Regions from separate parts of the Homo sapiens genome. Here all the other regions are linked to region 2. The links come from fine-mapping of genetic effects on gene expression. A gene starts in region 2. Each other region holds a variant in brackets. All regions are shown on one strand. Distances are between the middles of the regions. Region 1 has its middle 5.1 kb from the start of PAFAH1B2. Region 2 holds the start of TAGLN (transgelin). Region 3 has its middle 6.3 kb from the start of LNC-RHL1. Region 4 overlaps DSCAML1 (DS cell adhesion molecule like 1).

Region 1 (8,019 bases), 59 kb before region 2:
TAGTACAGTGCCTGAAATGGAGGAGGTACCCAGTAAATAATGTTTTGGATGAATGAATGATTGAAGTTGCTCTGCTGGATTCTTATATTGTGTCTTGGGTATGTGTCGTCTTCCCAACTGCACTCGAAGCTACGTTGTAAACTTGAGAGCAGCAGCTCCATTCCATTTACTAGTATAGGCGAGGTCCCAGTTAGGGTTGCCGTAGATGTTTGTATGTGGCTTCAGTGAGCGTGTGTCTTTGTGTACGTGGGGGTGAAGTGAAGGCGTGTTTGTGGGCTGGTTTCCCAGCTGCCCAGCCTGACTTTCTACAGTCAGCAGGATGGACCTGGAGATGTCAGGGCTGAAGACCCTGGAGCATGTGGCAGTGACAGTCTCCATCACTCACCCACGGCGCGGCAGCTTGGAGCTGAAGCTGTTCTGCCCCAGAGGCATGATGTCCCTCATCGGCACCCCCGGCAGCATGGACTCGTATGTACACCTGCCCGAGGCCTGAGCAACCTTTTCAGCAAGGGCCTTTCCAGGGAAAAGAAATGGAAGAAGTGGATCCTGGCACTGTCCTAAACTACTGTGGCACTGGCTATCCCTGGCGGCTGGAAGCCTTTCGTCACATACCTTCTTCAAGCGCTAGGCCCTGCACCTCACATACATGTTCTCTAATCCTTCTAAGAACCCCCTAGATTAGACTTTGTAACCTCCTTTTACAAATGAGGAAACTGGCTGGGTGTGGTGGCTCACACCTGTAATCCCAGCACTTTGGGAGGTCAAGGCAGGAGAATCACTTGAACTCAGGAGTTCAAGACCAGCCTGGGCAACAAAGTGAGACCCTGTCTCTACAAAAAATTTAAAGATTAGCCGAGCATGGTGGTACATGCCTGTAGTCCCAGCTACTCAGGAGACTGAGGTGGGAGGATCACTTGAACCCAGGAAGTCAAGGCTGCAGTGAGCTGTGATCATGCCACTGCACTCCAGCTTGGATAACAGAGTGAGACCCTGTCTCCAAAAAAAAAAAGAAAGAAAAAGAAAACAAGTCATGGAGCTAGTAAGTGCCCAAGAGAACAAGAATAAACCTAGATCCGTGGGACTCCAAGCCTGTGCGCGCTCCATGCTTGCTTTTTCCACCACACCACGTTAACACAATTTCCTCCTTCCATGAGACCCCAGGGGAAAGGGGCACCTGAGAAGCCCTCGTGGCACCCTCCCAGGTTGTTTCCACGGCTACTACAGTAAGAAAGTGTTGCTGGGGGAAGGTCAGCTCTCTGGCCCACGCCTTCCACCTGTTTCTGCTGTGTTCTTTCCTCAGGGATCCCAACGGCTTCAATGACTGGACCTTCTCCACTGTGCGATGCTGGGGGGAGAGAGCCCGAGGGACCTACAGGCTTGTCATCAGGGATGTCGGTGAGTCTCGTGCCCTCACACCAGGCCCTACCTTTCCTGCTTGTTATCTGGTCCCTCTGCATCTCAGAGTCCCCACAGAAAGTGTCCCGTGTGCAATATATAGGGTTGCCATTGGACCAAGAGAGTTGATGCCAAGAGTGTGCCCATCCGTGAAATGGGCATTGCTCTCTGAAACTGTTCATTTATACTACCTCTCATATTCCCTGGAGGAGTGACCCATCCATCTTTCCTCAGGATAGCAACAAAAAGTCCTTGTCGAAACCACATTTCAAGTCCTTTTACGTATAACCATCCTTCGGCAAGCCCCGGTAGGCAGGTAAGGGCAGGACTCATTTCACCATTTTTTTTAAACTGGCCCAGAGGTTTGAGGTGACTTGTGGAAGGTCACCATATCAGTGAAGGCCACAATATCCATGAATTGTGAATATCTTTAGTATCAGCCTATAGACTGGAAATTGAGCTCCACCCTCCCATCCTCCAGTCAGTTAGGTATTCTCTAGGCCAGTGGTTTTCAAAGCTTTCTTTAATTTGGTGGAAAGACATTTTTTTCTAATCCCAGCTGAACCCCCAAAATACGGGAGAGAAAAGCAAGACTCTGCTTTGGAGTACAGCCTTTCAACCCTTTCCATCCCTAAGGGCACCCAGTGAGGCCCTTCTGCAGAACCTGGGGTCAGTGGGACACAGTGAGGCAGCTCCTGGAGCAGACCATGTGGCCTGAGCCCCTTTGGGTGGCAGGGCGGGCAGGGCCTCTGCTGTCTGGCATGGCTGACAGAGGGGCGTGGCTCACGAGCTGCCCCTTGCTGCCCTAGGGGATGAGTCATTCCAGGTCGGCATCCTCCGGCAATGGCAGCTGACCCTATATGGCTCTGTGTGGAGTGCAGTAGACATCAGGGACAGACAAAGGTGGGTAAAGCCGCATGTGTCAGAGGGAAGGCCAGTCACAGGGGAAGGGCTGCCTAGGGAGCCCATCGCCCTCTGAACCCCAGCTGTGCTTCCCAGTTCCAGCGTCAAGCTGGTAGATGGAGCCCCGGGCTGGGAACTCACAGTCTGGGCCTCTCCTTTTTGCTGTGGGGCTTCCCTGTCTTCACCTGTAAGGCAGGAAAATGGGTGAGGGCAGATGGTATAGGAACCATAGTCAGTGGGGCATCCTCACCTCTTTTCTTCTCCACAGGCTGTTAGAGAGTGCCATGAGTGGAAAATACCTGCACGATGACTTCGCCCTGCCCTGCCCACCGGGGCTGAAAATTCCTGAGGAAGATGGTTACACCATCACCCCCAACACCCTCAAGGTACTAGGGCCAAGACTCAAGCTGCGGGTAGATGGGACTGTCCTGTCTGGGGGATGGAGTTCTTAGTGTGTTTCTCAGGGTGACCTGCGGGGTGAAGGACTGGGAAGACCTGGGTCCCAGCAGTGGTTTCATAGCATTGCTCCTACCCTGCTAGCCTAACTCTTACAGGACAGGCCTTGTCGGGGGAGGGGGCAGAGGGAACAGTTTGGGTGAAAAAGGCAGTCCCTAGAAGGAAAAAGACTTTCTGAGCTCATTGTCCTGGACTGAGAAAGGCTGTAGGCTTCGGGAAACAGTGCCTCACGTAGGTGCTTGCCTCGGCCCCAGACCTTGGTGCTGGTAGGCTGTTTCACCGTCTTCTGGACCGTTTACTACATGCTGGAAGTATATGTGAACCAGAGGAATGTGGCTTCCAATCAAGTTTGTATGAGTGGACCCTGCCACTGGCCCTATCGAAGCCAGAAAGCCAAGGAGGAAGGGACAGAGCTAGAATCAGTGCCACTTTGCAGCAGCAAGGATCCAGACGAAGTGGAAACAGAGAGCAGGGGCCCTCCCACCACCTCTGACCTCCTTGCCCCAGACCTGCTGGAGCAAGGGGACTGGAGCCTGTCCCAGAACAAGAGCGCCCTGGACTGCCCTCATCAGCACCTAGACGTACCGCACGGGAAGGAGGAG[C/G]AGATCTGCTGACCTCAGGGCCTGACAGTGTGGGACAGGCTCTTCTTTCCCAAAATTAGGGAGCTCTTGACAGAAAGCAGTTCTGATGCTTACATCTGGAATCTGAGGCATCCTCTGACTCCACTCAAAGAGGGTGAGGGCCTTCTTAAGATACAAATGGCGGAGGATTGCTGCCAGAGAAGTCTGGTCAGAGCCACAGGGTCTGCCTCCAGCCAAACGGGAGCTTTTGGTGAGAAGGTGTTGGACAGGGGATTGGCGCCCCCTTTGGGTTGGCCTCCATCCTCTTTTTTTTTCCCCTTAACACTATCCGCCTGGAAATGGGCTGCCTCTCTTTTTTTTTTTTTTTTTTTTTGAGACATAGTCTCGATCTGTCCCCCAGGCTGGAGTGCAGTGGCGTGATCTTGGGCAAGCTTTTGTGTTCTGTGTCATTTTTTTTTTTTTTTTTGAGATGGAGTCTCACTCTGTCGCCCAGGCTGGAGTGCAGTGGCGTGATCTCGGCTTACTGCAAGCTCCGCCTCCCGGGTTCGTGCCATTCTCCTGCCTCAGCCTCCAGAGTAGCTGGGACTACAGGCACCCGCCACAACGCCTGGCTAATTTTTTGTATTTTTTAGTAGAGACGGGGTTTCACCGTGTTAGCCAGGACAGTCTCAATCTCCTCTTGATCTGACCTCTTGATCTGCCCACCTTGGCCTCCCAAAGTGCTGGAATTACTTGCGTGAGCCACTGCGCCCGGGCGCCTCTTTTTTTTTGAGGTGAAGTTTCGCTCTTCTTGCTTAGGCTGGAGAGCAATGGTGGATCTCGGCTCACTGCAACTTTTGCCTTCCAGGTTCAAACGATTCTCCTGCCTCAACCTCCGAAGTAGCTGGGATTACAGGCATGTGCCACCACGCCCAGCTAATGTTGTATTTTTAGAACAGACGTAGTTTCTCCATGTTGGTCAGGCTGGTCTCAAACTCTGGACCTCAGGTGATCCGCCAGCCTTGGCCTCCCAAAGTGCTGGGATTACAGGTGTGAGCCACCGCTCCTGGCTGGGCTGCCTCTTTAATACCATCATTTGAGTTCTCTAAACGTGAATTCTTTCTAAGAAAACCCTCAGAACAACAAATATTTACTGAGCACCTACAGGTATGCCGTATACTGTGTGAGCAGCTCCAAGAGAATTCCAAGGTAAATTCGCAATGTAAACATCATTTTATATGAGGACAAAATTATCTTGGATTATATATGCCTAAAGTAATACACACTTAGTGCCACTTGACAGCACAAGTTACTTGAAAAATTACTTGACATACAATATTAAACAGATCAACAAGACAGAAGGTTAACAAGGATATCCAGGACTTGAACTCAGCTCTGCACCAAGCAGACCTAATAGACATCTACAGAACTCTCCACCCCAAATCAACAGAATATACACTCTTCTCAGCACCACATCACACTTATTCTAAAATGGACCACATAATTGGAAGTAAAGCACTCTTCAGCAAATGTAAAATAACATAAATCACAACAAACTGTCTCTCAGACCACAGTGCAATCAAATTAGAACTCAGGATTAAGAAACTCACTCAAAACCGCACAATTACATGGAAACTGAACAACCTGCTCCTGAATGACTACTGGGTAAATAATAAAATGAAGGCAGAAATAATGATGTTCTTTGAAAGCAATGAGAACAAAGACACAACGTACCAGAATCTCTGGGACATATTTAAAGCAGTGCATAGAGGGAAATTTACAGCACTAAATGCCCACAAGAGAAGGCAGGAAAGATCTAAAATCAACACCCTAACATCACAATTAAAAGAACTAGAGAAGCAAGAGCAAATACATTCAAAAGCTAGCAGAAGGCAAGAAATAACTAAGATCAGAGCAGAACTGAAGGAGATAGAGACACAAAAAACCCTTCAAAAAATCAATGAATCCAGGAGCTGGTGTTTTGAAAAGATCAACAAAATTGATAGACCGCTGGCAAGACTAATAAAGAAGAAAAGAGAGAATAATCAAATAGATGCAATAAAAGATGATAAAGGGGATATCACCACCAATCCCACAAAAATACAAACTACCGCCAGAGAATGATATAAACACCTCTACGCAAATAAACTAGAAAATCTAGAAGAAATGGATAAATTCCTGGACACATACACCTTCCCAAGACTAAACCAGGAAGAAGTTGAATCTCTGAATAGACCAATAACAGGCTCTGAAATTGAGACAATAATTAATAGCCTACCAACCAAAAAAAAATCCAGGACCAGACAGATTCACAGCCGAATTCTATTAGAGCTACAAAGAGGAGCTGGTACCATTCCTTCTGAAACTATTCCAATCAATAGAAAAAAAGAGACTCCCTAACTCATTTTATGAGGCCAGCATCATCCTGATACTAATGCCCGGCAGAGACATAACAAAAAAGAGAATTTTAGGCCAATACGCCTGATGAACATTGATGTGAAAATTCTCAATAAAATACTGGCAAACCGAATCCAGTGGCACATCAAAAAGCTTATCCACCACAATCAAGTTGGGTTCATCCCTGGGATGCAAGGCTGGTTCAACATACACAAATTGATAAACGTAATCCATCACATAAACAAAACCAATGACAAAAACCACATGATTATATCAATGCAGAAAAGGCCTTCGACAAAATTCAGCAGCCCTTCATGCTAAAAGCTCGCAATAAACTAGGTATTGATGGAACGTATCTCAAAATAGTAAGAGCTATTTATGACAAACCCACAGCCAATATCATACTGAATGGGCAAAAACGGGAAGCATTCCCTTTGAAAACCAGCACAAGACAAGGATGCCCTCTCTCACCACTCCTATTCAACATAGTGTTGGAGGTTCTGGCCAGGGCAATCAGGCAAGAGAAAGAAATAAAGGGTATTCAATTAGGAAAAGAGGAAGTCAAATTTTCCCTGTTTGCAGATGACATGATTGTATATTTAGAAAACCCCATTGTCTCAGCCCAAGATCTCCTTAAGCTGATAAGCAACTTCAGCAAAGTCTCAGGATACAAAATCAATGTGCAAAAATCACAAGCACTCCTATACACCAATAACAGACAATAACAGAGAGCCAAATCATGAGTGAACTCCCATTCACAATTGCTACAAAGAGAATAAAATACCTAGGAATCCAACTTACAAGGGATGTGAAGGACCTCGTCAAGGAGAACTACAAACCACTGCTCAGTGAAATAAAAGAGGACACAAACAAATGGAAGAACATTCCATGCTCATGGATAGGAAGAATCAGTATTGTGAAAATGGCCATACTGCCCAAGGTAATTTATAGATTCAATGCCATCCCCATCAAGCTACCAAAGACTTTCTTCACAGAATTGGAAAAAACTACTTTAAACTTCATATGGAACCAAAAAAGAGCCCGCATTGCCAAGACAATCCTAAGCAAAAAGAACAAAGCTGGAGGCACCACGCTACCTGACTTCAAACTATACTACAAGGCTACAGTAACCAAAACGGCATGGTACTAGCACCAAAACAGATATATAGACCAACAGAACAGAACAGAGGCCTCAGAAATAACACCACACATCTACAACCATCTGCTCTTTGACAAATTGACAAAAACAAGAAATGGGGAAAGGATTCCCTATTTAATAAATGGTGCCAGGAAAACTGGCTAGCCATATGTAGAAAGCTGAAACTGGATCCCTTCCTTACACCTTATACAAAAATTAATTCAAGATGGAGTAAAGACTTAAATGTTAGACCTAAAACCATAAAAACCCTAGAAGAAAACATAGGCAATACCATTCAGGACATAGGCATGGGCAAAGACTTCCTGACTAAAACACCACAAGCAATGGCAACAAAAGCCAGAATAGACAAATGGGATATAATTAAACTAAAGAGCTTCTGCATGGCAAAAGAAACTACCATCAGAGCGAACAGGCAACCTACAGAATGGGAGAAAATTTTTGCAATCTACCCATCTGACAAAGGGCTAATATCCAGAATCTACAAAGAACTTAAACAAATTTACAAGAAAAAAAACAAACAACCCCATCAAAAAGTGGGCAAAGGATATGAACAGACACTTCTCAAAAGAAGACATTTATGCAACCAACAGACACATGAAAAAATGCTCATCATCACTGGTCATCAGAGAAATGCAAATCAAAACCACAATGAGATACCATCTCATGCCAGTTAGAATGGCGATCATTAAAAAGTCAGGAAACAACAGATGCTGGAGAGGATGTGGAGAAAGAGGAACACTTTTACACTGTTGGAGGGAGTGTAAATTAATTCAACCATTGTGAAAGACAGTGTGGCGATTCCTCAAGGATCTAGAACTAGAAATACCATTTGACCCAGCCATCCCATTACTGGGTATATACCCAAAGGATTATAAATCATGCTGCTATAAAGATACATGCACACGTATGTTTATTGTGGCACTATTCACAATAGCAAAGACTTGGAACCAACCCAAATGTCCATCAATGATAGACTGGATTAAGAAAATGTGGCACATATACACCACGAAATACTATGCAGCTGTAAAAAGGATGAGTTCATATCCTTTGCAGGGACATGGACGAAACTGGAAACCATCATTCTCAGCAAACTATCACAAGGACAGAAAACCAAACACCGCATGTTCTCATAGGTGGGAATTGAACACT
Region 2 (6,302 bases):
TACTCGGGAGGCAGAGGCAGGAGAACGGCTTGGACCCGGGAGGTGGAGGTTGCAGTGAGCTGAGATCTCTCCACTGCACTCCAGCCTGTCAACAGAGCAAGACTCTGTCTCAAAAAAAAAAAAAAAAAAAAAAAAAAAAAGTCTTGGGTAATGGAGAAGAGCCCCATGGCCCAGACCTACTGTGACCTTAGTAATGATACAGGGGCAGATTTGGAGGTCAGTGAATGCACTCATTTGGGAGCCAGGCAGACTGTGAGCTCCCTGAGGGTGGGGCAGGTCTTGGTTATGTCTGTGGCCTCAGCATGTAGCACAGACAGACACAGCCTGGATGAGCTTATGGGATAGAGCTTATGAGTAGAGCAGGGAGGACCTTGAGTGCCACAGGTTATGGCTACTGTCCCGGAGCAGGTGTGTAACCTGACAGTAGTGCTTTGGAAAAAACAATGAGCCTGCAGAAAGATTAGAGCAAGGGCGGAGTCCAAGGCCGGGAAGTGGGTGAGAAGGCCTTCTGCCATCTCTGAGCTGAAGGCCTTCAAGGTTGTTGCAACCCTGTGCTCTTAGGTCAAGGGAAGAGAATCAGAAGGAAGGAGGAGGGTAAGAGTGAAAGAAAAGGGAAGAGAAGCCAGTGAACTCAGGGAGAAGTTTGTAACCAAAGGCCATTTGTTAGATCGGGAAGGGGTAGGGACAAGGACAAGGGACAGGTCAGAATTGCTGCTGTCCTGCCTGGGGCTGGAGAGAGGGGTGCCCAGGAGCAAGATGGCAGATGGGTCTGGCCCTTGCCCTGCCAGAGCAGGGTCATTCGGCAGTTTTTCTTGTTGCTCCCCAAGAAAACCCCTGCAGAGTCGAGGGAGCACAACCGGGACTGCATCCTCCTCGACTTCTTTGACGACCACGACATCTGGCACTTCCTCTCCTCCATCGCCATGTTCGGGTCCTTCCTGGTAAGCGGGCCTCCCGGCCGAGCCGGGTGGGTACGTGAAGGTAGCAGCTGCCTCCTTCTCTGTGGCTGATCTGGCGTCCACACCCCAGGTGTTGCTGACACTGGATGACGACCTGGATACTGTGCAGCGGGACAAGATCTATGTCTTCTAGCAGGAGCTGGGCCCTTCGCTTCACCTCAAGGGGCCCTGAGCTCCTTTGTGTCATAGACCGGTCACTCTGTCGTGCTGTGGGGATGAGTCCCAGCACCGCTGCCCAGCACTGGATGGCAGCAGGACAGCCAGGTCTAGCTTAGGCTTGGCCTGGGACAGCCATGGGGTGGCATGGAACCTTGCAGCTGCCCTCTGCCGAGGAGCAGGCCTGCTCCCCTGGAACCCCCAGATGTTGGCCAAATTGCTGCTTTCTTCTCAGTGTTGGGGCCTTCCATGGGCCCCTGTCCTTTGGCTCTCCATTTGTCCCTTTGCAAGAGGAAGGATGGAAGGGACACCCTCCCCATTTCATGCCTTGCATTTTGCCCGTCCTCCTCCCCACAATGCCCCAGCCTGGGACCTAAGGCCTCTTTTTCCTCCCATACTCCCACTCCAGGGCCTAGTCTGGGGCCTGAATCTCTGTCCTGTATCAGGGCCCCAGTTCTCTTTGGGCTGTCCCTGGCTGCCATCACTGCCCATTCCAGTCAGCCAGGATGGATGGGGGTATGAGATTTTGGGGGTTGGCCAGCTGGTGCCAGACTTTTGGTGCTAAGGCCTGCAAGGGGCCTGGGGCAGTGCGTATTCTCTTCCCTCTGACCTGTGCTCAGGGCTGGCTCTTTAGCAATGCGCTCAGCCCAATTTGAGAACCGCCTTCTGATTCAAGAGGCTGAATTCAGAGGTCACCTCTTCATCCCATCAGCTCCCAGACTGATGCCAGCACCAGGACTGGAGGGAGAAGCGCCTCACCCCTTCCCTTCCTTCTTTCCAGGCCCTTAGTCTTGCCAAACCCCAGCTGGTGGCCTTTCAGTGCCATTGACACTGCCCAAGAATGTCCAGGGGCAAAGGAGGGATGATACAGAGTTCAGCCCGTTCTGCCTCCACAGCTGTGGGCACCCCAGTGCCTACCTTAGAAAGGGGCTTCAGGAAGGGATGTGCTGTTTCCCTCTACGTGCCCAGTCCTAGCCTCGCTCTAGGACCCAGGGCTGGCTTCTAAGTTTCCGTCCAGTCTTCAGGCAAGTTCTGTGTTAGTCATGCACACACATACCTATGAAACCTTGGAGTTTACAAAGAATTGCCCCAGCTCTGGGCACCCTGGCCACCCTGGTCCTTGGATCCCCTTCGTCCCACCTGGTCCACCCCAGATGCTGAGGATGGGGGAGCTCAGGCGGGGCCTCTGCTTTGGGGATGGGAATGTGTTTTTCTCCCAAACTTGTTTTTATAGCTCTGCTTGAAGGGCTGGGAGATGAGGTGGGTCTGGATCTTTTCTCAGAGCGTCTCCATGCTATGGTTGCATTTCCGTTTTCTATGAATGAATTTGCATTCAATAAACAACCAGACTCAGTTCTTGGGGCCCTTGTTTGCACTCCCTCTGGGTGGAGCTGTTGAGGATGAGGGGAGAGGCGGAGGTCTTCCATTTCCCCATTCTTCAAGCCATGGCCCTACTGGGAACTGCAATTCCTTGATTCTCCCGTTTTTCCTGTCCCTCCAGCAACAGCATTAATTCAGTAAACATTTACCGGGGCACTGTGCTGGACAGAGGCCAGTTCCTGGAAAAGCCTTTCCCACGCCATCCCACTGCAGACATCCCTCCTTACCTCCCCAGGAACAGCAGTCTCTGCCCACCTGGCCCCGCCCACCAGACTGAGGCTCACTTCACCTCTGACCTGAGCGGCCCCCAGCTCACCAAGCCACAGGCCCAAGCAGTGCTCCCTGATGCGGCGTTTATAATCCGCTCAGCGTGCAGGCCGAGGCAGGAGGGTGATGAAAGCTGGGCAGGCTCCAAGAGGAGGGAGTTTTGATATGTCCCTGAAAGATTCATTTAGACTTCAGTCGGCTAAGGAGGACATGATTTGGGGGCCAAGGAATCTGTTGAATTCAGAACACAACCAGAGGTCTGCAGGGTCAGGGATGGAGGAGTGGGCTTTCCCCTCGCCAGGGCCCACTCCTCTTCCTGCTTTTCCTGCAGGCGCCACTGGGAGGTGCTATGGCTGTGCCTCCCCTGGGCTCTGGAGCATGTCCAGTTGCAGTGGGCAGAACTGCGGAGGCGGGCCCCTCCTCTGCCAGGCCTGGCAGCCCCCTCCTAGGGCCTTGTTTGGCTAGGGGTGGTGCCGGGTGTGGCAGTGTGTGTGTAGTGGAGAGTGTTAGGTCTTCCCTACCAGATGCCCTTGCAGGGGAGTGCCACAGCAGTCAGTCCAGGGATCCCACTGTTAGTCTCACCTTTTTTAACCTCTTATCTCTCCCCAAGATCCCTGAAGCCAGGTACGAGCAAGATGAGAGTGGGTTATCTCTGGAGTGACAGAGGCTGGTCTGTTTTCCAGGCTGGTAGGGACTGTTCCTAAAGGGAGGAAGGGATGATACCAGCCTCCTGAGCCTCCTTCTCCTGCGTTAGTGTCTCAGGCCCTGCCAGGCCTTATAGACCCTCTTATTGACACTGCCCACTGGATGGGGACCGGAGTTGGACTCAGCTTCTGCCGAACCCTCAAATCCCAGCCCCAACTAAAGCATATAACTCAAGACCTACCTGCACTGAAAGCTCTTCTCAACCTGAGCAGGGTGGTCCAATTGAAAGGGTGGGTCTGACCACCTCTCCTGCACCCATGCGGGTTGGCAGAGGTGTGCAGGATCTGCCACTTACCATTCACCATGTGGCCTTGAGGAAGACGCACTCGGGGCCTCAGTTTCCTCATCTATAAAATGGGGATGTAATTACACCCTCACACTGTAGCTGTGAGTATTCAATGAGAGCACTGCAAAGGGCCTGGTGTGGAGTAGGTCCTCAGGAAAGGTTGGATCCCATGTCCCATCAGAGCTAAAAGCCCCAGGAGGAGAGGGTGGCTGGTTTGTCCCCACAAACCCCTGGGATTCCCGGCTCCCCAGCCCCTTGCCCCTCTCTCCAGCCAGACTCTATTGAACTCCCCCTCTTCTCAAACTCGGGGCCAGAGAACAGTGAAGTAGGAGCAGCCGTAAGTCCGGGCAGGGTCCTGTCCATAAAAGGCTTTTCCCGGGCCGGCTCCCCGCCGGCAGCGTGCCCCGCCCCGGCCCGCTCCATCTCCAAAGCATGCAGAGAATGTCTCGGCAGCCCCGGTAGACTGCTCCAACTTGGTGTCTTTCCCCAAATATGGAGCCTGTGTGGAGTCACTGGGGGAGCCGGGGGTGGGGAGCGGAGCCGGCTTCCTCTAGCAGGGAGGGGGCCGAGGAGCGAGCCAGTGGGGGAGGCTGACATCACCACGGCGGCAGCCCTTTAAACCCCTCACCCAGCCAGCGCCCCATCCTGTCTGTCCGAACCCAGACACAAGTCTTCACTCCTTCCTGCGAGCCCTGAGGAAGCCTTGTGAGTGCATTGGCTGGGGCTTGGAGGGAAGTTGGGCTGGAGCTGGACAGGAGCAGTGGGTGCATTTCAGGCAGGCTCTCCTGAGGTCCCAGGCGCCAGCTCCAGCTCCCTGGCTAGGGAAACCCACCCTCTCAGTCAGCATGGGGGCCCAAGCTCCAGGCAGGGTGGGCTGGATCACTAGCGTCCTGGATCTCTCTCAGACTGGGCAGCCCCGGGCTCATTGAAATGCCCCGGATGACTTGGCTAGTGCAGAGGAATTGATGGAAACCACCGGGGTGAGAGGGAGGCTCCCCATCTCAGCCAGCCACATCCACAAGGTGTGTGTAAGGGTGCAGGCGCCGGCCGGTTAGGCCAAGGCTCTACTGTCTGTTGCCCCTCCAGGAGAACTTCCAAGGAGGTGAGGAGTGTGTGAACGCACCTGTGTTGGAGCACGGTGTCCCACTCTGGCGGGTCCCCAGGGCCTGAGCAGCAGCGATAGCCCTGTGACAATGTGAAGGGCCACAGAACTCTTGTATTCCAGTCAGGGGCAAAGAGTGGAGACGGAAGGCCTGTCCTTCTGACAAGCAGCCCCTTCCACTGTCTGACAGTGGGAGGTCACCCCCACTGTAGCAGAGGGGTGGGGGGCGGGTACTGCCAAGGAGGAGCTTTGGAGTGATAGGCGGGGCAGGCCTGGGACCCTTGGTCTTTCCCAAAGGGTGGTTCCCTTTCGAAGTTGCTATTCCAAAGGTAGCAGTGAGGATGGCACACATTTATGTAGCCAGGCCACTCCTGTTTGTCCGTGGAGTGGAGAGGAGCCACCCTCCTGCCCTCTCAGAGGTCCAGGTGTGCTCACTCCTATTTGGGAAGAGAGAAGGGGCACAGCAGCCCTGCAGGGGCCCCTGGCTCTGCTCGTGTTTCTGGGCTTCTGCTGGTAGGGGGTGCCACCTTCCCGTTTGACCCTGGACTTTCTTTCTCCACTGCCCACTTTCACCCACTGGGCAGCTCAGGGGAGGGGTCCTGGCAGGAGCCACAGGGCAGGAGGGTCCATGCCTGTCCATGCTGTCCTGGGAGTGTCTTGAGATGCCCCTGGGGGGGCCGCCCTGTAATCATCCTCCTCTCCCCCTCCCCACTGGCTCGAAGGCAGGACTCGGGAGGCTTCATCAGAGGACTCTAAAGGATTTCTGGGGATTCTCCACTTTTCGACCCTGACCCAGGAGGAGGAAGGGGAAGGATGGTGGTGCTGGGTGGGAGTGGGGATGGTGTGTGCTTCATCCCCCTCTGACCGAAATCCTAATCTTGTCTCTAGATCTGGGGGCTGCAGCGTTGTGTACCTGTCACCCTTAGCCTTGCTGCTTTGACCTGTATTGTCTGTTCTGACCCTCCTGAGACTGGAAGCTGGGGGTAGGGGACACACTCTCCTTCCATCCTGTTCCTCAGGAGCCCAGCAGGGGTGCAGAAGGGGAAGGCAGACATGAGGGCAGGTGGAGTGGGGGTAGAAGCAGGGCCAGAGACAGAAGGTGGATGCCTGTCTGGGATGGTGGTGCAAAGGCTGAGACAGAGGCTGGGGTGGATGGAAGCCAGGATGCAGGGCTACCAAAATCACCTGGTCCCAGCTGACTTGGGGGTTTGGACCACAGTTCTTTGTGCAGGAGTCCTTGGGTGGTTGGGGAGCGGGGGTGGGACACACAGGGTGAAGGGAGGGATTGGCTGTTTGTAGCTGAACAGCAGAACAGAGCACTCTGCCTTTGGGGTCTCTGGCATCACTGGCAGGGAGAGGGGTGGCTGGGCCAGGAGCCCACCTCATCCCCAGTGCTCAGAGAACTGGGTCCTCAGAAGTGGTCCTGCCCCCACTTTACACATAAGGA
Region 3 (8,019 bases), 390 kb before region 2:
ACGAATAGAAAGAATGGATAACTTTTAAACTAGTATATGGGGAAGAGAGACTAAAGAGCATCCGATTGACTTCTAGTAACGGACGGTGGATTAATTGCATGCATTAGCCTCTGCTGTTCTCTGAAATCTCAATAACGTGGCATTGAAGTGCACTTTTTACAAAATGCATAAACCCAAAGGGAAAATAGAAAAGGAGACAAAAATAACAACATTTGGGAAGCTGGAAAGCTTCCAAATGATCAAACGGTGGTGACAGGCACACCTGACATGAATTTTGAAGCAGCAGTGGAGAAAGCCAAGAAGGCCCCTGATTTTCACTACTAAACTCTCCAAATGCTCTGACATTAGTGTCAACATTCTTCTGGAAGAGTGGGTGGCAGTGGGACTAGAAATATGGCAGTTGGTCGAGAGTCTGTTTGAGAAGCAGCTGTTCTCTTCAACTCTACTTGGCTGGGTACCCCCAAAGCAGCAGAAAACCAGATGCTTATTCTCTCTGAAAAGGGTAAAAGAGTGGGACTCCGGCCTGGAGAAAACTAGGTATTGTTGGGGGCCAGGGTTTTTGTGCTAAGAAAAATTAAGGAAAACTTTATACATTAAATTTTGAGGCTGGGCACAGTGGCTCATGCCTGTAATCCCAACACTTTGAGAAGGCAAGGCAGGAGGATCGCTTGAGCCCAGGAGTTCGATACCAGCCTGGGCAATGTAGCGAGACCCAGTCTCTGCAAAGAATACAAAAATTAGCCAGGTATGGTGGCACCTGTGGTCCTAGCTACTCAGGAGGCTGAGGCAGAAGGATTACTTGAGCCCACGAGTTAGAGACCGCAGTGAGCCATGATCATGCTACTGCTCTCTAGCCTGGGCGACAGAATGAGACCCCATCTCAAAAATAAATTTTTTTAAAAGACTCCTCAGTTCACCATCTTTCCCCATATTGAAAATGGAACAACATTCTCCCTGAGAAATTTGGCTGGCCCAAGGAAATAGGCCTAAAGAAACTGACTTTTGGGGGTTCCCTGCTCTCCAGATGGTCCCTCCTAAATTGAACCATGGACTCAGGATTTCACATCAGCTTCTTCTAATTTATGCAGCTTTCTTCTAATTTACTGTGGGGTTTTTTCGGTGTTTTTTGTTTTGTTTTGTTTTTTGAGACAGGGTCTTGCTCTGTCATCCAGCTGGAGTGCAGTGGTGTGATCATAGCTCACTGCAGCCTCAAACTCCTGGGCTCAAGTGATCCTCCCACCTCAGCCTCCTAAGTAGCTGGGGCTACAGGCATGACCACCACACCTGGCTAACTTTTTAATTTTTTGTAGAGGTGGGGGTCTTGACATGTTGCTCAGGCTGGTCTTGAAATCCTGGCCTCAAGCGATCCCCCTGCCTCAGCCTCCCAAAGTGCTGGGATTTCAAGCATGTGCCACTGTGCCTGGCTAAGAATACTTAAAGGTGAAGTGAGAAGTTCACATGATGTCATATCAGGAGGTACACAATGGCTACTTGTCCCACTAATAGCAATCCTTAGTTTTTTCACTTCGTGAGGTGGTCACTAGCAGACCTCTTGGTTGGAAAGATAGGTTATTTCCCTTTGTAATTAACAAGTAACAGAATTGGGATACTTTGGCATCTTAAAATACCTTGGCAACCTGATGAACATAGCATACATTCAAGATTTTTGCCTGAATTAATTATTACATTAGAAGAGTTGCAGAATGAGAATGTTCTAATTCTACTATTTCTTTTATATATTTCAGCTGATGTTATTCTATGAAGAAAAGCTCCCTCATCAGTGAAGATGAACTGCACTTCTTTCTAAAGAGGCAATGTCAGACGGGCACGGTGGCCTATAATCCTAGCACTTTGGGAGGCCGAGGAGGGTGGATCACCTGAGGTCAGGAGTTCGAGACCAACCTGGCCAACATGGTAAAACCCTGTCTCTACTTAAAATACAAAAATTAGCCGGGCATGGTGGCACATGCCTGTAATCCTAGCTACATGGGAGGCTGAGGCAGAAGAATCGCTTGAACCTGAGAGGCAGAGGTTGCAGTGAGCTAAGATTGTACCACTGCACTCCAGGCTGGGTGACAGAGTGAGACTCTGTCTCAAAAAAAAACAAAACAAAACGAAACAAAAAAACAGTTGACAGTAGTTGTTTTTGTAGAGTGAAAAATAGAGGTGGGGGTTGAGATACTGCTGCTATTTTAAACTAACTTGTAGATCTGTTTGACTCTTTTTTAAAAAACAATTTTTTGGAGAGATGAAGCCTTGCTATGTAGCCCGGGCTGCTCTCAAACCCCTGGCCTCAAGTGATCCCCCTGTCTCGACCTCCCAAAGTGCTGGGGTTACAGACATAAGTCACCACACCTGGCTCTGTTTGACTCTTTATGTGCAGTTTGAACTTTTTAACTGAATTTTTTAAAAGGTGTGAAATTAGTCTTTAAAGGAACACAAAACCAACAGAGAAGCAAGCAGGAAGATACAAGAAGCAAAGAAATATCATAGTAAAATGAAAATACAAAATAATATGACATAAATAAAACAGTAATCACTATCAAATTAAATAGATTAAGTGAGCCCACAAGGCATTGTCTCTGGGACTAGTCCGCTGGGTCGAAGTCCTGCCACTTATTGGTTCTGTGACCTTTGGCAAATTAACTTCTCTGTGATTCCATTTCTTTCTTTTGTTTTCTTTCTTTCGTTTTTTTTTTTGAGACAGAGTCTCACTCTGTCACTCAGGCTGGGTGCAGTGGTGCAATCACCAATCACAACTTACTGCAGCCTCCACCTCCTGGGCCCACGCGATCCTCTCACCTCAGTCTCCTGAGTCCCTGGGAACACAGACATGTGCCACCCTGCCAAGCTAATTTTTAAATTTTTTGTAGCGATTGGGTCTCACTATATTGCCTAGGCTGGTCTCAGACTCCTGAGCTCAAGTGATCCTCCCGCCTTGGCCTCCCAAAGTGCTGGGATTACAGGCATGAGCCACTGCACCCAGCCTCAAACTCTGTAAAAGGGGAATAATGATAATACTTGCCTCATAGGGCTTGTGGGAAATAATGCTTTATTACTGTAGGTTAAAAAGCACACAAACATGCTTGACACAGTAGGTGCTACATCAGTTTACTATTGTTGTTGTTTTCAGATTGGATTTTATAAAAACTCTACTTA[T/C]TTGCAATTTATAAGAGGCATACCTAAAATATAATGTCAGAGAAAGGTTAAAAAGTGGAGCCAGGGAAGGAATTTAAGAAGACATACCAGACCAATAGTAATCAAAAGAAAGCAGGTATGCAATGTAACATCAGAACAAATAAGCTTTGCTTATTTGGATTGATAGGGATAGATAGGATTGATAGGGATAAAGCAGATCATTATTTAATGATCAAAGAAGAAATTTGGCTGGGCGTGGTGGCTCACACCTGTAATCCCAGCGCTTTGGGAGGCCGGGGCAGGGGGATGGATCACAAGGTCAGGAGTTTGAGACCAGCCTGACCAAAGTGGTGAAACCCTGTCTCTACTAAAAATACAAAAAATTATCCGGGTGTGGTGGTGCATGCCTGTAGTCCCAGCTACTCAGGAGGCTGAGGCAGGAAAATCATTTGAACCGGGGAGGCAGAGGTTGCAGTGAACTGAGATCGCACCACTGCACTCCAGCCTGGGTGACAGAATAAGACTCTGTCTCAAAAAAAAAGAAAAAAGAAGAAGAAGAATAAATTCACTGGGAAGATAAAACAATTCTGAACCTGACAACATAGTCTCAAAATACGTAAAGCAAAAAGCCACTGAGTCCCAAAGAGAACTTGACAAATTTGGTAGGAGATTTTAATACCATTTCCTCAAACTGATGGAATCACAGAAAAAAAATATAAGAACAAGTCAGCAAACTTGATATGGAAAGAACAGCATCCCCACCTGAGAGTCAGCAGCCTCCATGCAGGAGGACCGAGGGGAAGCCAGGGAGCAGGGCAGCCTGAGCCAAGGCCAAGCCCAGTTGAGGACAGGAAGTGGAAGGAGGCACCTAGGAAGGCTGAAGATGCAGAGGAGTGTGTTCCAGAGGCAGTGGGAAAACTGGGAGGGAATAGTTCTCGGGATGTTGGATAGAGAGAATAAGCAAAGAACAATGCAGGAAGAAGAGTGGGGTGGGAGGCCGTGACCTTGCTAGAGAGCCTTATGTTTTGGGCTATGACCAGGGCTGACAGAAGTGTGAGGCATGGCGGGTTCAGAAGAGAGATCAATGATGCATCGCACATCTCTAAAGCTGATGAAGGCAGCAATTGGCACTGAGGCCAACCTGGTTGGGACTCAGAGAGGTGGGACACATATTGTGTGCCAGGCACCCTGCCACATCTTGGAGAGAATAAGACACAAACCCTCATCTAGTGGGTTGGGGAAATGATGCAGGGCTCAGTGTGGCTAGCGCGTTGGGGTGGGAAGCAGCCTGGGCACGCCCACAAGGCTCTCTGCCTTCCAGAATCTGGCCCAGTTGGGTTTGAAAAGATTTAATGACAATGAGCTCTCTATGGACCTACCTTGTGCCCAGTATTTACCTTTCTTATCTGTAACGCTCAAGTCAATACTCTAAGGTAGGAATTGTTATCCTCATTTTATTTACAGAGAAACTGGAGTTCAGAGAGATTCTTGCCCAAGGTCTTGCCCTGGGCCAATTCCAGGTCTATCTAACTCCAAAGTCCATGCTCAGTACACTGTCTCCTGCTTGGGAGCAAAGAGAGGACTTTGCTCCTAAGACCAGACCCATACCACAAAGAGCCTCAACACTTAACTACTGGGAGAAAACACCGTCCTAAGTAAAAAGCCAGGTGCTCTTCCCCTTACCCCAGGGGGTTTAGGATTTGGGAGAAAGAGGCCTGATGGAATATAGGGGTACCAGGTCCATGTGTTAACTGATCTGGGTACAAGAACAGTAACTCAAGGCCAGCCAGGGAAAGAACAGCCAAGCCGAGGCACAGCTGCCAAGTCATCACCTCTCGTTCCTTGTCCCACCATGCCTTGTCTCAGCACGAACATAACCCCCTCAGTTTCCCTCTTCTCCTGTCTCCTGCATAGGCAGAACCAGTTCTGAGTGATAGCCAGGACAGCAGGTCCTCGGGTCCTCAGGCTTGCCACTACAACCTGTTTACCCTGCGCAGACCATGATCCATCAGGTCGAGAAATGCCCCACTGCTAGATGTTTGTGTCAAAAATGCCTGCCGGTGGTGCAACAGCTGGGTGGGACCAGTGACGTGGACTTGAGTGCCACAAAATGTACCGAACACATTCTGAGTCAACATAGTGATGGTGTGCCAACTCCAGATAAAGATTTTCATTATTATTTGTTTGGGTTTTGTTTATATGTACTCCTCTTCATCACCAAAGATTTGAGGCTACAGAAAATGAAAATTGAAATGGTAATAAAAGAGAGGGGCTTGCAGAGAGGACCACAGGATGGGGAAAATAGAAATAATCGCAGAAAATCATGACCCGATGAAGAGCACAATCATAGAAGCACTAACAGATGACAAGGTTGCCAGATCTTCACCATTGGTTTTGGGTTTCGTGAAAACCCGCGAAGAGAGGGATTCAGTCAATTACATATTTTTTTTCCTTCTTTCTTTTATTTTTATTTTTTATTTTTTCTTGAAATGGAGTCTCATTCCGTCACCAAGGCTGGAGTGCAGTGGTGCAATCTTGGCTCACTGCAGCCTTCACCTCCTGAGGTTCAAGCCATTCTCCTGATTCAGCTTCCTGAATAGCTGGGACTACAGGCATGAACCACCATGCCTGGCTAATTTTTGTATTTTTAGTAGAGACTGTCACACGCGAGACAGGGTTTCACCATGTTTGCCAGGCTCTTGAACTACTGACCTCAAGTGACCCGCCCACCGCAGCCTCCCAAAGTCCTGGAATTACAGGCATGAGCCACCGTGCCTGGCTTGTTTTAATTTTTTATTATAAACAACACTGTGATGAACATCCACATAGCTAAATGCATGCATTCCATGATCATTTTCTTAAGATAATTTTTTTCTTATTATTTGTGTATTTATTTATTTATTTTTGAGACGGAGTCTTGCTCTGTCACCCAGGCAAGAGTGCAGTGGCACAATCTCGGCTTACTGCAACCTCCACCTCCCAGGTTCAAACAATTCTCCTGCCTCAGCCTCTTAAGTAGCTGGGATACAGGCACAAGCCACCAAGCCCAGCTAATTTTGTATTTTTAGTAGAGACAGAGTTTCGCCATGTTGGCCAGGCTGGTCGCCAACTCCTGACCTCAGGCAATCGCCTGCCTCGGCCTCCCAAAGTGCTGGGATTACAGGCGTGAGCCACCTCACCTGGCCTTAAGATACATTTTTGAAGGGAAGAACATTTTCTGTCCAAGTACATTCCTGTTCACAAACCCTTTTCCATAACACTGGAGACTTCCTGGGGAGGTTGGAACCAATGGCTTAGACTCCAAAGGAATGAATGTACCATAAAGCTTTCAGCAATCTTCTGTCAATGCTACTTGTATAGACTTCCAGACAAACATTGAAGATTGAATGCATGCATCTAATTTCACTTTTTTTTCCTGAAATCCTCCTGAAACTATAATGAAGAAATGTTTGGGAAAAGATGTAGCCAGGCACTGTGGCTTATGCCTGTAATCCTAGCACTTTGGGAGGCCAAGGTGGGCAGATCGCTTGAGTCCAGGAGTTTGAGACTAGCCTGGGCAACATGGCGAAACCCTGTCTCTACTGAAAAAATACAAAAAATCAGCCAGGCATGGCAGACCTGTAGTTCCAGCTACTCAGGGGGCTGAGGTGTGAGGATCACTTGAGCCTGGGAGGTAGAAGCTGCCGTGAGCCCTGATTGTGCCACTGAACTCCAGCCTGGGCGACAGAGTGAGACCCTGTCTCAAAAAACAAAAAAAAAAAAAAAAAAAAAAGAGACGGGATCGGGAAAAGGAAGAAAAGACCACAGCACAATTTTGGATGTTAGAAAGCAAATGGACCAGTTGTGACTGATTTAGCCGGCCTTGGGAATGCTGGTCATGAGCTGGCAGTGAGAAAAGATGAGTTCCAGCCTGACTTACACCGCTGGATTCTCAAAAGGCGAAGAGATGATAGTAGGGCTCCTGCCAGCCCACGCTGCACCTGTGTGTGCAATAGAAACAGCCTCCCCTTTCTCAAGACACTCTACAGCCGTCTGCCAGAAATTTGACATGATAAATATACAAATCTGTCATGTCTACCCTGTGAGGGAGGTGGCCTCAGAATGATACAGTGCACAGCTTGCACAGCCATATATGACTGTCCTGAATTGGGACACCAGTTTCTACTGAAAGTAGAGGTGACGGAGGAGGCTGTCATAAAACATGAAAGATTGGTTGAAACTATTTAAGGAGCAGTTAGAGCTTTAGCTTCCCTGTCTCACCTTAGTAGAAGACTGGAAGTTTATTCTCTTGAACGTCAGGCAGAGTTGAGGGCAGGAGACCTGTACTAGCAAGAGGATTAAATCAAAGTATACCCTCTGAAATGCTGAATCACCCTCCTGCTTCTTCCACTTGGCCCCAGGGACACTGTATTCAGGCCTTTACCCTCCAGGCAGAAGAGTGAAAGACATTTCTTAGGGGAATATGTCCAGCTCAAGAGGTAAGACCCAAAGATTTTCACAATGGGGTTCCCCAGCTAAACATCTCAGTGGATCACCCTGCAGTGACATTCATAGTCAATAAGTACTACGCACGTATTGGAGCTTCAAATCACCTTTAAAATCTCCCATTCTTTTCTTTTTTCTTTTTGAGACAGAGTCTCGCTCTGTCACCCAGGCTGGAGTGCAGTGGTGCGATCTCGGCTCACTGCAAGCTCTGCCTCCCGGGTTCACGCCATTCTCCTGCCTCAGCCTCCTGAGTAACTGGGACTACAGGCACCTGCCACCACGCCTGGCTAATTTTTTGCATATTTAGTAGAGACAGAGTTTCACCATGTTAGCCAGGATGGTCTCGATCTCCTGACCTCGTGATCCACCCACCTTGGCCTCCCAAAGTGCTGGGAT
Region 4 (8,019 bases), 320 kb after region 2:
AGGGGCTGTCATTCCTTCTGGTCTTCTGAATAACATCAACAGCTCCGAGAGGCCACTGAAGAAGAAGTAGCCAACATCCATCCTGGGGAGTTAAACATGCAGCTGGGCTGGTCCCGCGCTCCCAGAGGGCTGTTGGGAGGCAGATGACCAGATGACCTCCCAGAGGCCCAAGGCAGGCTCCTCGCTCCTCTCCAACCCTGCTTCTGGGGGATGGGCAGGTGCGATGCATGGCTGGTACTCCAGGCTAGCCACTCACATCCGGTCAATACACACACCGGGCAGCCTGGAGGGGGAAGAGAGCCCAGGGATCATGGCTCCTCCACCAGCTCATTCGGTACTAGGAGTGCTGTGAGTGGGGTCTCCAAAGCAGGGTGGGGACTCCTCCATATATGTACATGGCTGTCCAAATGGGGCTTGCCTTCTGACCTGTGAGTCAGCGGCGCCCTCTCCAGTGCTCAGGGCTAGTAGCTGCATGTGTGCCTGGCCATTTCCATTTCTGGGAAAGCCATCCTCCCGGAGGTGGGGTCTGACCCCCTGCACCCTGGTGATGACCTGGGCCCTCTTTACTGTGGAGTCCAGCCTACAGATCTGCCCCCGAGTCCCAGCGTGTCCCTAGCAGGCAGCTGGATGTAGGGGGCATGAATGCCTCACAACCCAGGGCTTTCTCCCCAGAAGCCCTGCTCTGGCCACAGTCATCTTTAGCAAGGTGCTGCAATGGTGAAGAGGCAGAGGCCTGAGTGGCTGAGAAGACACAGTGGTCGAGGCAGGCCATTCAGTGTCCAGTCACCATAAAGCTTTTATGGCCACTTGTTTGGGAGTGCTGCACAGAGGAAGGCGTGCTGACCACCAGCCCAGCTCAGAAACATTTAATGGTGTCTCTCATCATCTCTCTTTGAGATGGAGCCTTTTATTTACTGCACCTGCTAGCAGAGTGTGCGCCGTGGGAAGTCTGGGCTTCTTTGCCCTTGCAGCACGGAGATGGGGCACTAGCCATGCCTGGAACCCAAAACACCCGGTTCCAGACTCTGCTACCCATTTAAGTGACTGTGGGCAAGGCACCTCCTCATCACCATCCAGTCTAACCTCAGTTTTCTCATCTGCAAAATGGAGCGGTTGAACCAACTAATCACTAAAGTCAGACACTGATTTTCTAGTTAAAACAAGTCCCATATTTTGGGAATAATGACAGCTGACTTAAGTTTTTACACAACCCTCTCTTCTCAGGAAGCCCATCCCAGATCGCCTTATTTGAAATTGCAAACCCCGTCTCCTTGGCACTCTCAGCCTCTCTCCTGTTTGACAGGAGACATCTCTGGGGTATTTACCGTAGGATCCCTTTCCTCACTAAAATGTAAACTCCCTGATGGCAGGGATTTTTGTCTATTTTGAGCATAGCTGTATTCATAGAACCTAAAATAGTGCCTGGAATCTAGTGGAGGCACAGTAGATGTCACTGAATGAATGACATTCGTGGTCATTATCCTCATCACCACTACCATCGTCATGAGCCCTGTCTGTCCCACGGGAGTTTGCTTCCTCCTTTGTTACTGGCTCCCTTGGCTGAGGAAGTAAGGTTGTTGGCAGTGGCTTCCTTGGTGTTCCTCCCCCAAATGGCATGCAGGCCATCTCCTCCTAGGGAGCCTGCTGTGCCCCTTTCCTGTGGATCCCAGTGAGGTTCCTCCCAAATCTCCACCTTCACCAGTAGCAGGCACTTGGCCAGGTGGCTGACTCTCCCTTAAGCTTATCATCATAGAAACCCCCAACCTACTCGTTAGGGTGGGAGAGGGTCTCTGGCACATGCTCCCAGGCATACGGCAGAGGCTGGGTGGAGCAGTGCTGAAGCTCAGCATTGAACAGCTAGGGAAAAATTAGGGAGGGAGGAGGGAACATGGGCATTTGGGAGAGAGGGTGTTTGTGTGTGGGTGAGTATGTCCCTCTTCCACTTGTCCTCCACAGAAGCCTGGCACCACCTCCCTGTCCTGGTCCTGCTGAGCATGGGCAGAAAGCACCTCTTGGCCTTGTTTTGGCTCAAGAAGCCCTCGGAAGCTCAGATGTAGGAATGGAGATGTTTCTTCACGGAGCCAATGCAAAGGGGCCCCAGTTGCAGCCCTGCCTTCCTAGTTAATTAAACATTCAGCCTGCATGCCCAGAGATGCTTTTGTGCTACATTATTTTTCAGCTACAGGTGGCCCTAAAGTCACCAAATCTAGGTTTGATCTGTGTGCTCTCCTCTTAGCATCCTGCCAAGGATTTCTCCGGATGACCAGAGACAAATACCAGCCATCCCTGCAGCCTGGCTCTCCACTGCCAGCCAGTGTCACATATGCCAAGGCACACACAGCCTTCAAAGCACCCTCCACCCTCTCTCCTCTCTGCTCCTCCCACTTTACTGGAACACAGCAGGCTCCCTTGGGCAATATTTCATATGGTCCCACCTGCAGCCACTTTTTGGGCTCAGGAATGTTGCCTTACGGGAGGGCCCTGGTGGACAACACACTTGCGTATGTGTAACTGCTGGCATGCATGTTTACGTATGTGTGCTCAAGTGTGAATGGGCTAATGTGTTAATTGGCTGCACGTGCATGCAATACGTACCAGGGTGCACACGCACGAGTGCTCACACACAGGTCTCTGCACACATGTGCAGGCATGTTGGGCGTGTGCTGCTGTTCGCAGCTTAGTGTTAGAAAAATTCGTTAGAAGACAAGCAGTCCCAGAAGGAATGGAGTCAGCAGTTGTTTTTCCGGCTCATGGAGCAGCATGGGTTTCAGCCCCACCCTGCCCACTGACCCTTGGCCCCACAGAGAGCTGGGGTGGGAGACTTCCAGTTTTATCTCACACTTCCGGTGCTCTGTCCCCACCATCCCTGCCCCCGCAACTTGCCCTTTTCTACTTTCTAGCTCTCTGCTCTGAACCTTGAGTGGGATGCACTTCCTAGTCGGGCAGCAGCAGTGGGGTCTGGAGAGCTGCCCCCAGGCCCACACCCTTCTCCCCCTCCAAGTCAGGGCCCCCGCCATGCCCACGGGCACCTCCTCCACCCCCCTCCTTGGGTAGTTCTTGGAACAGCGCATCCGCTAATCAAGCAGCGTGATCATAATCAGCTCTGATGGTTCTTCTGCAAAAGCGCATTCTAATGAGGTGGGAGAGGGAGTCAGGGAAAAAATGGGGATGAGGGGGCCTGAGCTTTTGGAGTGGTGGGGGCACGTCCCAGAGCCCCTCACACCCATGCTGCTTCTTGGTCCAGAGAGAAAACAGGTGACTACACCCGCCTCAGGGCTGGATTTCTGGGATTTTTTCAGACCCTGAGGGTGGGGAAGGGGGAAGGTGTGCATGCAAGCGTGTGTACACACACACACACACACACACACACACACACACACACACACATGCCTGCTATGCACAGCTTATGCTGGGTGCTGGGGACTCACACGTGGCCAAGGCATGGGCTCTGTCCTCTAGGATCACACACACACACACACACACACACACACACACACACACACCCCTCCCCTTCCCCCCACTTCCCTCCCTCTCCCTGGGCTGCAGAGACACTGTCGCTCAGCACCATCACAACAGGCCCAGCGAGTCGCCGAGACGGAATGCATCAGATTCAATTCATTAGGACTGATCACTCCCTGAATGGGGCTGAATAATTGATGAGCAGAAGCAGCTTTCAGGACGTTCCGAGTCCTCTGAGGCCCGCTGCACCCGTTATTATTTTTTTTAAGCCAACAAACCCGACCAAATGCTTGCCAGTGAGGGCTGGCGCAGGGAGTGGAGCAAAGGTTAGATGTTTTAATATGTGATGTTTACACTTAAACTCTCGGTCCACTGCTTGTAAGGGAAATGGATACAGGCGGCCCGGCCCGTGATGCTGCTTAAAGGAGGCAGGTTGAGCTGTGTACACAGCCACCAAGCTGATTTGTCCCAGATGACAGGGGCGGGGATGTGGGCTGGGGGTTGTTAGGTCCCTGGTGGTACGGCAAGGCCCCTGGGCTGGGCAGAGAAAGTGGCCAGGATGCCCTTCCACATGGCTCCCTCGCAACAGCAGGGAAATGGGTGTTTGGCTGTGAGGGTCTCCTCTCTCCTCCCAGACCTCAGATGGCCACGGTGAGGTTTCCTAGTAAGTTCTCAAAGTAGACTTTGACAGTCCACTTTCATCCGGGAGCGGTGGCTCATGCCTGTAATCCCAGCACTTTGGGAGGCCAAGGTGTGTGGATCACCTGAGGTCAGGAGTCCGAGACCAGCCTGACCAATATGGTGAAATCCCATCTCTACTAAAAATACAAAAATTAGCTGGGCGTGGTGGCGTGCGCCTGTAGTCCCAGCTACTCAGGAGGCTGAGACAGGAGAATTGCTTGAAACCAGGAGGAGGAGGTTGTAGTGAGCTGAGATCACGCCACTGCACTGCAACCTGGGTGACAGAGCAAGACTC[T/C]ATCTCAAAAAAAAAAAAAAAAAAAAAGTCCATTTTCCTGGGCTCAAAGTGAGGTTTCCTAGTAAGTCACTCCAACTCAGCCTAATGTCTCAGTTTCAGTTCAAAGCACACACTGTCTGGCACTGTGATGGGTGTTGGGCACACAGGCTTGTGACTCGGCTCCTGTGCACTGATGGCAGGAGCTGGGGGAGAAGTCTCCACCCAGCCTTCCACTGCCACGTTCAGTCCTTCCAGCTGGCCACCAGGCCCTTCCACCGGATGTCCAGTGATATCACATGCTTGAGGGTCCTCCACAAACCCTTCCTCTTCCCATATGTCCCTCTTGCTGCCGATAGTGTGTGTGTTCCATGTTGCTTCCAGTCTTGGGCAAAGCAGCAGCCAGGGGGTCCCCAGGGCCTTCCCCCCATGCCAGAGCCCCTTCCCAGGCCTGGACCCCTCTTCTCTTTTTCTTCCTTCCATGGGCCTCCTGCTAGCTCTCCTCCCCTGGTCAACGCTATTCCTCCCTCTCTTCCCTTGGGGATACAAAGGGGGTTCTCCCCAGCTTCCCCTCCCCACTGCCCTGGGTTGTGACACAGATGCTCAGGAGAGGGAAGCCCCCAGGTGACAGGGCCCTCAGAGTTCTCAAGGACTCTTGTCTCTTCCACACCCTCCCTGGCAGTCCCAGAAGCTCTATGTCTTTATTCCTAAGGCAGAGCATGGAGCAAACGGTCCTCCCTCCAGCCTGTCCTTTCCCTGGCTCGGGGCCATTCTCGGTTGGAGCCCAGGTTCTGGAGTTATGCAGACCTGGGAAAGATTCTGACACCAGATGGCAATTTACTTAACTTTTCTTTTCTTTTTCTTTTTTTTTTTTTTTTTTTTTTTTTTTGAGATGGAGTTTCACTCTTGTTGCCTAGGCTGGAGTGCAATGGCACGATCTAAGCTCACTGCAACCTCCACCTCCCAGGTTCAAGTTATTCTCCTGCTTCTGCCTCCCAAGTAGCTGGTATTACAGGCATGTGCCACCACGCTCTGCTAATTTTGTATTTTTACTAGAGACAGGGTTTCTCCACATTGGTCAGGCTGGTCTCAAACTCCTGACCTCAGGTGATCCGCCTACCTCGGCTTCCCAAAGTGCTGGGATTACAGGCGTGGGCCACTGCACCCGGCCTTTCTTAACTTTTCTATGCCTCCACTTTCTGCCCCGAAAACTGGGGAGGAAATGTTACCTGCCTTAGCTGAGTGGGCAGCTGTGGGGTCGAAGATGGCACTGCACGTGGAGCATGGAGCAATGTGAGAGGCACACAGTGCGCCTGCCGCAGTGACAGTGGCAGATCATTATAACCATCGCAGCCTGCTGCGATAGCCCAGGATGGTGGCTGGAGACCCCCAGACCTCCCTTCCTCCCAGGCGGAGCCCCAGGCTGAGGTCTTCATGCTTCTGTAGCCTCAGGCTGCAGAGGACAGCCTGTCCACTTATCCTCCCCAGGCCTGAGCCCATCCTGGCTCTTCACGAAGAGACATAAGCTCTTCAGCCATCACAGCCGTGGCTGACTCAGTACCCAACCCCTGTAGCCTGGTTTTCACAGGCTTCTCCTTAGTCAAGCCTGGGGGTATCCACCTCCCCAGCCTGGCCCCAGAGAAACCAGGCCACCCTCCTGTCACACACCATCCAGACAGTCTCCAGGTCTGTCAGTCCCAAAGAATGTATTTGGGGGTTTCGAAGACCTTCGCAGCCCCAGAACCAAGGAGACATTGTCATTGACTCACATGCTCATGTATTTGAACATTTATATTCACTCATTCATTTGATCCACAGACTTAGTGAGCGGCTACCCAGGACCAGGCATGAAACAAAGACCTCACCCAGGTGGATGTCAAGGGCCCAGGAGGGACGAAGCTTTTTTTTTTTTTTTTTTTTTTTTTTGAGACAGAGTTTCAACTCTTGTTGCCCAGGCTGGAGTGCAATGGCTCAATCTCGGCTCACTGCAACCTCTGCCTCCCAGGTTCAAGCAATTATCCTGCCTCAGCCTCCCAAGTAGCTGGGATTACAGGCACCTACCACCACGCCCGGCTAATTTTTGAATTTTTAGTAGAGACGGGGTTTCATCATTTGGGCCAGGCTGGTCTCAAACTCCTGACCTCATGATCCACCCGCCTCGGCCTCCCAAAGTGCTGGGATTACAACGTGAGCCACTGTGCCCGGCCTGAGGGAGGAGGCTTTTAAGCACCACACAGCACTTTCCAGGCCTCAAGCAGTACTAGCAGGTGGAAGGGTGTTCCCAGTCCTGTAGAAGCAGCCTGGGTACTGTGTATCCCACAGGGGGTCAGGGCTCCCAGCGTGCTCTGTCAACCCTGGCCTCCTGTTGCTTGTGGCCTCCTTGTGTGGGCCCGCTGAGCTCCTGGGGGCTCCATCCCAACAGCAGAGGCCCCATGCAGCCCATCTCTGACCTGGCCTCTCTCCCAGAAGGCAGCCTGCCTCCTTTATCTGTAACTCACCCTCTCATGCACCTGGGGTGTGTGCTGTCTTATTCTGCAGCCCGAGGAGGACCCCGGATGTAGAGGAGCTCATGGCCTGCGTCCACCCACAGTCTTCTGCCCTGCTCCCTTTTTTCTGAATGCCAAGCTGGGGCCTCTCTTGCTCAGCCTTCCGTTCACCCAGGATTGCCTATTGTTGTCTGAGTCCCAGCTGGGGAAAGGCCCACGCATCCTGGGTGGTCAGGCGGGCAGGGGCCCTGGCTGGTGAGGGAGGCCTACCTTTGACGGCTACGTGAACGCTCTGGCTGATGGAGAGCTGGGGCTGGATGAGGACACTGCACAGGTACTCCCCCTCATCCATGCCCTTCTGCACGTCAGTCAGCTTGAGGGTCCCATTCTCAAACACCACCTGGCGGTGGTTGTCTGGCAGCAGCAGGGCATCCTTGTACCACTTGATGGAGTAGTAGGGATAGCCGATGACCCTGCAGTTGATAAGGGTGTCCCGCCCGGCGACTGCTGTGATGTTCCGCATAGCCCGGATGCTGGGTGGGCCTGGGCAGGAGTCAGAAGAGAGGAGGAGGAGGAGAAGGGCATGTGCTGCTGTCAGCCAGGGACAGCCAGGCACCACCCTGCGGTGCTCTTCTCAGGCACTCGGCCCCTGAGACTTTCGGGGGCGGACATTTGGTGGGGGCACAGGGATGCCTTTTTACAAAGCTACAGACAGGGGCTGGAATTGGGGGGTGCCCACAGTCTCTCCAGGACTCACTGTTACTAGCTTCAAAGAGTTGCAAACGGACGCAGTATATACATGCCTTGGCCAAGAGCCATTCCCCTCGTGGGACAGGGATAGGACCAAACTGCAGCCCCACCAAGAAGTGACTGGGATTTGGGAGGGCAAGTCCTCATTTATGGGGAGATTAAGATTTTGGGATTAAAGTGGAAAGGTAGAGATTTTGTTGTTTCCATTCTACTTGCTTATTTTGATCTCGTACCCAAAAGGAATTTAAGTTAATTACTTAAAAACAACAGGAAGGTCTTCGCCAGGTGAGCTGATGACTTTCGTTCAACAAGTAAATGTGTATTGTAGGCCCCTGGGAAGGAGCTGTGAAAGGGGCTCTGATAGTGCTGGCT

What was found. PIP is the estimated chance that this variant, and not a neighbour inherited with it, causes the effect.
Region 1: its variant is fine-mapped to the expression of TAGLN in whole blood (TOPMed, PIP above 0.99).
Region 3: its variant is fine-mapped to the expression of TAGLN in whole blood (TOPMed, PIP above 0.99).
Region 4: its variant is fine-mapped to the expression of TAGLN in naive CD4 T cells (Schmiedel 2018, PIP 0.91).

The regions. Positions count from the first base shown.
Region 1 is chr11:117,135,219-117,143,237 of GRCh38, forward strand. It overlaps the pseudogene LOC653303. Among named protein-coding and RNA genes, the nearest start is that of PAFAH1B2, 5.1 kb to the right of the region's middle. RefSeq lists an enhancer at 2,511-3,396. The variant C/G (reference allele first, on the strand shown) is at 3,357.
Region 2 is chr11:117,194,975-117,201,276 of GRCh38, forward strand. It overlaps TAGLN (transgelin), which reads left to right and starts at 4,396. Exons shown (of 5, transcript NM_003186.5): 1 at 4,396-4,458. SIDT2 (SID1 transmembrane family member 2) reads left to right here. Exons shown (of 26, transcript NM_001040455.2): 25 at 828-941; 26 at 1,030-2,468. The coding sequence ends at 1,092. It overlaps LOC100652768 (a long non-coding RNA gene), which reads right to left. Exons shown (of 8, transcript NR_045215.1): 2 at 4,877-4,938; 3 at 3,763-3,814; 4 at 3,345-3,462; 5 at 2,812-2,933; 6 at 2,256-2,430; 7 at 2,034-2,172; 8 at 639-1,060. RefSeq lists enhancers at 1,121-1,620, 2,953-3,616 and a silencer at 3,019-3,313.
Region 3 is chr11:116,803,864-116,811,882 of GRCh38, forward strand. No RefSeq gene overlaps it. Among named protein-coding and RNA genes, the nearest start is that of LNC-RHL1, 6.3 kb to the right of the region's middle. The variant T/C (reference allele first, on the strand shown) is at 3,160.
Region 4 is chr11:117,509,300-117,517,318 of GRCh38, forward strand. DSCAML1 (DS cell adhesion molecule like 1) reads right to left here. Exons shown (of 33, transcript NM_020693.4): 8 at 7,168-7,440. Among named protein-coding and RNA genes, the nearest start is that of CEP164, 190 kb to the left of the region's middle. RefSeq lists enhancers at 2,121-3,104, 5,857-6,456. The variant T/C (reference allele first, on the strand shown) is at 4,436.